Linked DNA regions of Homo sapiens: region 1 is linked to region 2. Evidence: fine-mapped QTL for protein levels in blood plasma. Region 2 holds a variant in brackets. A gene starts in the other region. All regions are shown on their reverse strands. Region 1 holds the start of IL12A (interleukin 12A). Region 2 has its middle 31 kb from the start of LINC01845.

Evidence for each region. PIP is the posterior inclusion probability: the model's chance that the variant is causal. Protein levels are from antibody-based Olink assays in UK Biobank. Linkage for the fine-mapping came from a reference panel and not from the study's own genotypes, which makes the PIPs less certain.
Region 1: it holds the start of IL12A, and the variant in region 2 is fine-mapped to the plasma level of the IL12A protein (UK Biobank, PIP above 0.99).

What each region holds. Positions count from the first base shown.
Region 1 is chr3:159,987,540-159,990,039 of GRCh38, reverse strand. It overlaps IL12A (interleukin 12A), which reads right to left and starts at 1,205. Exons shown (of 7, transcript NM_001397992.1): 1 at 866-1,205. The coding sequence starts at 881. It overlaps IL12A-AS1 (IL12A antisense RNA 1), which reads left to right. Exons shown (of 10, transcript NR_108088.1): 9 at 747-943. RefSeq lists enhancers at 945-994, 494-994, 995-1,495, 2,347-2,500 and silencers at 1,115-1,164, 1,235-1,434.
Region 2 is chr5:159,433,448-159,436,471 of GRCh38, reverse strand. No RefSeq gene overlaps it. Among named protein-coding and RNA genes, the nearest start is that of LINC01845, 31 kb to the left of the region's middle. RefSeq lists an enhancer at 22-522. The variant A/G (reference allele first, on the strand shown) is at 1,288.

The DNA of each region.
Region 1 (2,500 bases), not on the chromosome of region 2:
ACACTTTTCCTTCAACACCTGAGAGATGACTCGAGTTATTACAAAGCGCCACTCTATTCTAGGGCTAGAAGCCAGCTCCCTGTGAGGGTCTAGAGATGAGCTTGGACAAGGGTGTTGAACCCAACACTCACCCAGAGAAAGCCTACATGTTTTTGATCAGGGAAACCCAGACCAGGTGGTGAAGTGGCTGAGTCAGACTTGGGACCCAGTGTTTTAAAAACAGTGGAGTGAGAAAGCCTGACTTTTTTTGTTTTTTTAAGACGGAGTCTCACTCTGTGGCCCAGACTGGAGTGCAGTGGCACGATTTTGGCTCACTGCAACCTCCACCTCCGAGTTCAAGCAATTTTCCCTGCCTTAGACTCCCGAGTAGATGGGATTACAGGCACCCACCACCACACTCGGCTAATTTGTGTATTTGTTAGTAGAGACGGGGTTTCACCATGTTGGTCAGGCTGGTCTTGAACTCCTGACCTCAGGAGATCTGTCCGCCTTGGCCTCCCAAAGTGCTGGGATTACAGGCGTGAGCCATTGCACCCGGCCAAGCCTGACTTTAGAACTGGCTAGGATCTGCCTTCTGTTTGTAGCTGAGGGACCCTAGGCAGGAAAGCAGGAAATCTCCCACGCTGGGCCTCAGTTTCTCCTCTACGAAGTGGGCATAATGATAGCTCATCAGGCTGTTTCGAGATGAAAAGAGACATGCCCTATTTAGCACACGGTGAGACCCCTATTCTTATTCCTCTTTGCAGGAGACGGCTGCTGCTGTTCCAGTCTCTCCTTAGGCAGACTTGAGTTTCTACCCACTCTTCCCAAGCAGCCGCCCCTCCGCACCCGAGCGAGCCAAAGACCTGGCGGGCTGAGTACTCACTGCGCGCTGGACACATGCTGAGCCGGCACTGCAGGGACACAGGGCGAGCCGCTGGATGCAGACCTGTGGCCGCGGCAGGTGAGGGCGGTGGCTGGGAGGCTGACCCAGGGGGCCACATTTTTATAATTGTCCCGAGGCGCGGCAGGACTTTCCCGGGACTCTGGTCTCTTGCTTTCTGTCTCCTTCTGTGTCTCTCTCTACATCAGCTTCTCGGTGACACGTGCGGTGCGGCCGGCCCGCGGGGCTTGCGGCGCTTTCGGATTAACTCCCGGGGTGCCCGGCCGCAGCCGTTCCGGGACGGCCCCGCCGCCTCCAGCTCGGCCCAAAATGAAAGCGAAATGTTCGCAGTTACTGCGCGGGGTCCACAGGCGGGCGGGACACCCCGCCCACCACCCTGGGTCCCCGGCCTTAGCCGGACGCCCCGTGTCTAAGCTACCCCGCCCCGCAGCTGTGCAGCGCCCCCTGCCGACGTAGAGAGAGGAGTGCCTCCCACTTTGCATGTCCTGCGTAGGGATGGGCCCTAACCACGACCTCCAGCCTAGTACTGGAAGGGGTAGGCAAATCATTCACTCATCATCGTTCCTTTAGATGGCTCACTAGATGCCAGGCCGACGTTGCACCAGGTGCAGGACACCCAGGGAGAACAGGACCCTTGGGGCATTGCCACACTAAATCAGACTCAAGGCGTTTTGTTCACAGGTCTTTTCTGAAACCTGAAAAGGGATGAGAGCTGGCTGACTCTGCAATTATTACTCTTGTAGAGAATCCAGTTTAACGATAGGATGAATACACAGAGTCCTGGGAGGAAAGACCTAGAGAAAGAGCCCACGCTCAGCCGGAGCAACGGGGTCCAGGAGTCAGCAAAGGCTCCCGGGAGCAGGCAGGGGCCCCAACCTGAGTGTTAAAAACAAGCAGGCATTAGACCGCTTCCAGCGGGAGGGCACGCAGGGTCTAGCCAGGGGAAACAGGGATCAGAAGCGCAGTCATGAAGGGTTGAGGGAGGTGGGGGTCTAGGTGTCCTTGCAGGGTGTGAGGCTGGAGGGCTGGATGGGGCCATGCCATGAGGGCAGGGGATGCCATACTAAGGAGTGTACTTTCTGTGCTGAGAGTAGTGGGGAGTCTTCCTGGGTTTTAGGCGGGAGATGTGGCAGAATTTGCATGATGGGGGGATCCCTTCAGCCACAGCATGAAGGATGGATCCAGGGGTCAGGAGTAGAGCAGAGGGAAGAGTTGACAAGGTGTGGCCAAGTCCTTATTCAGTATGGAGAACACAGGGTGGGCAGGAGGGACTCTCAGAGGGCTTGTGGGCCAAGGCTTGGTAGCTCCTCAGGTGAGCGGGAGAGGAAGGCCCTGAGAATGGGGAATGGAGATTGTTCTAGCTTTACAGGGATTACTGTATAAGAGGACTGAGTTTGGAGGAGATGGTGAGAAGTTCCATTTTGGATGTGCTGGGTTTGAGGTTCCTGTGGGACTTTTTAGTTCAGTTGTTTTTCCCACAGGCATTAGTCACCCTAGGCGTGGGTAGTGGGGAGGATGTGTTTGATCTCTGACTTGGAGCTTCCAAAGGGCCTGACTACACCCAGGCCCTAGGACCTAATAACTGGAGCTGCCTTCTGGGTGGCTCATCTGCTCGAA
Region 2 (3,024 bases):
TAGGTACAGAGGGTGGTCCCGCCATCTGGTGAAGAAGATGCATGGGCAAGATATGGCTGGATGCATGCCAGGACTTGTCTAGATGCACAGACGATATGTGGCCAAATGCTCCACGGTACCAGACACAGACAATGAGTCTTCCAAATCCTGGAGGGCTGGGGCCACCTGCTTTCAGGAGCTGGGGCCTCAGAATTGAACAGACCTGGTTCAGTGTCACCCTGTGTTGGCAGGACCCCCAGTCCCCTCTTCTCTGTGTTCTGTGATGGTGGTGAAGAGTGCAAGTGTCATGTCAGACAGAACTCGGAAAAAAAACAGCTCTGTAACCCTGGGGGCATAATTTTATCTGTCTGAGCTTTAATTTCCTCTGTCTGTCAAATAGAGTTGATGGTGGGACTGATGTCATAGGTTGTTAGAATTAAAATGAGTCACTCCATATAATGTGCCTAGAATGATGCCAGGCACAGAATTTGTATCCAGTAAGTGGTCACTGCCATTGTGGTTGGAAATACTCTGGCCATTTTTATTCTCCAAATTCCACCACACATCCAGCCTCTCCATTAGCTAGCACTGTGCGGCATGCATTCTCTCTGTAAGCCTCAGCCATTGAAGAACTGCCCAGAGAGACAAGGCAAGGTGAAAATTACATCCAATCCTATGTTCACAGGGACCAGACGAGCAGATTCAGAGTTGGATTGGATTTGGTCATTCGTTTATTCATTCATTTAATTATCCACAATTATGTGTTGAGAAACTCTTGTATGTCAGGCCCTGCTCTGGCTCTTGGACCACAGTCAGCAGTACAGAGATGGTCTCTGCCTTCAAAGAACTCACATTCCAGAGCAGTGCTGTTCAACAGAAATCCCACAAGCACATATGTGACTATAATTTTCTTGTGGTTGCTTTTTTTAACAGGTGCAAGGAAGCTTAATGATATATTTTATTTAGCCCACTATATCCAAAATATAATCATTCTGATATGTCATCAATATTAAAAATTAGTAATTGGATACTTTACATTCTTTTCTGTGCTAGGTCTTCTAAACCCAGTACGTATTTTTCACACACAGCCCCTTTCAGTGTAGACTGGCCACAGTTCAGGCACTCAGTAGCCACAAGGCCTCTGTATTGGACAGAGCTGCTCTCTTGTGTGTGTGAGGGAGCACCACCTTGTTTTTTAATTTTTTATTTTAATCAGTATATTGAAGAGTTATCTTCACTTCTATGCTTATTGCAGCACTATGCATAATAGCCAAGACTTAGAAGCAAACTAAGTGTCCATTAACAGAC[A/G]AATGGATAAAGAAAATGTGGTACATACACACAATAGAGAGCTATTCAGCCATAAAAGAGAATGAGATCCTGTCATTTCCAACAACATGGACGGAACCAGAGGTCATTATGTTAAGTGAAACAAGCCAGATACAGAAAGACAAACATCACATGTTCTCACTTATCTGTGGGAGCTAAGAATGAAAACAATTGAACTCATGGAGATAGAGGTAGAAGGATGGTTACCAGAGGCTGGGAAGGGTAGTCAGTGGGGATAGTTAATGGGTACAAAAAAATAGAAAGAATAAATAAGCCCTAGTGTTTGCTAGCACAACAGCGACTATAGTAAAATAATAATAATAATTGTTCATTTTTAAATAACTAAAAGAATAGAATTGGATTACTTGCAACACAAAGGATAAATGTTTGAGGTGATGGATACCCCATTTACCCTGGTGTGATTGTTATGCATTGCACGCCTGTATCAAAATATCTCATGTACCTCAAAAATATATACACCTACAATTTACCCACAGACATGAACATGTTTTGGTCTCCCCCATCCCACCCCTGCAAAGCCTTCACCATTTTTCAAATCAAATCTAAGCAACAGGCAAACCTGGCTTCAGACCCCAGCTCCTCTAATTATTAGCTGTGAAAATGCAAGATCCTTGTTTCATTTGATTTCCTGGGGCTGCCGTTACAAAGTACCATAAAGGGCGGGGGTGCTTAAAATAACAGAAATGTATTCTCTGACACTTCTAAAACCAAAGTCCAAAATCAAGGTGTTGGCAGGGCCATGCTCTCTCTAGAGGCTCGCAGAGAGAACCCATTTCACACCGTTCTCTTAGCTTCTGGTGTTGCCAGAAGTCCTTGGTATTCCTTGGCTTGTAGATGTGCCCCTGCAGTCTCTGTCTCCATCATCACAGAGCATTCACCCGTGCATCTGTGTCCTCATGTGGCATTCTCCTCTCTATGTGCACCTGCCTCTGTATCTCTTCTCTTCCTAAAGGATAACATTCATATCAGATTAAGGGCCTGCCCTACTCCAGCATGACCTCATCTTAAACACATCTTGATTACATCTGCAAAGACCCTATTTCTAAATGGGGTCACATTCACAGGTACCAGGGGTTAGGACTTCAACCTATCTTTTTGGGGTACACAATTCAATGAACAACACAGGGCCATTGTGAGGATTTGACAATCCACTGTGTGCAAATGCTCCGACATCTCAAAGAGACTCCTTTTATAGTCTCTGCTGGCATCTTGGCTGCTAGATCTCTGCTTGCCCTTATGGCTGACACCAGCCATCTCTGGCAGTTCCCATCACCCCCAGACTTGCCAGCTGCAGGGCATGTGACTCAAACTAGAAATGCACAAAAGGTGACTCCCCATGGAGCAAGCTTAGCTACTGGGGGACTCAAAATGGGAAAAAAGCAGAAGAGGTGTTTGCCCTCCTGTAGAGCCCTGCTCAGGCGGCAGAGGTCCGTAAGACCTCTTGGGACTGTCCAGCAAGATGGAGTAGCCTACAGGGCTGCTGCAGAACGGTGGTCACAACCGTAACACATTCCTTCACGTTACTCTCCTCCTTCACCACCGCACGCCCTTTCCCTCATGCCTTCTTCCCTAAGGTCACACTCCTGCCCTGGTTTGAGCACACGATCCCTCAGATTTGCTTGTCTAGAGTATCTGGACTAAGATATTCAATAAAGGGAAGTTCTATTACCTTTCCAGATTCCGCCAAACAACATCACC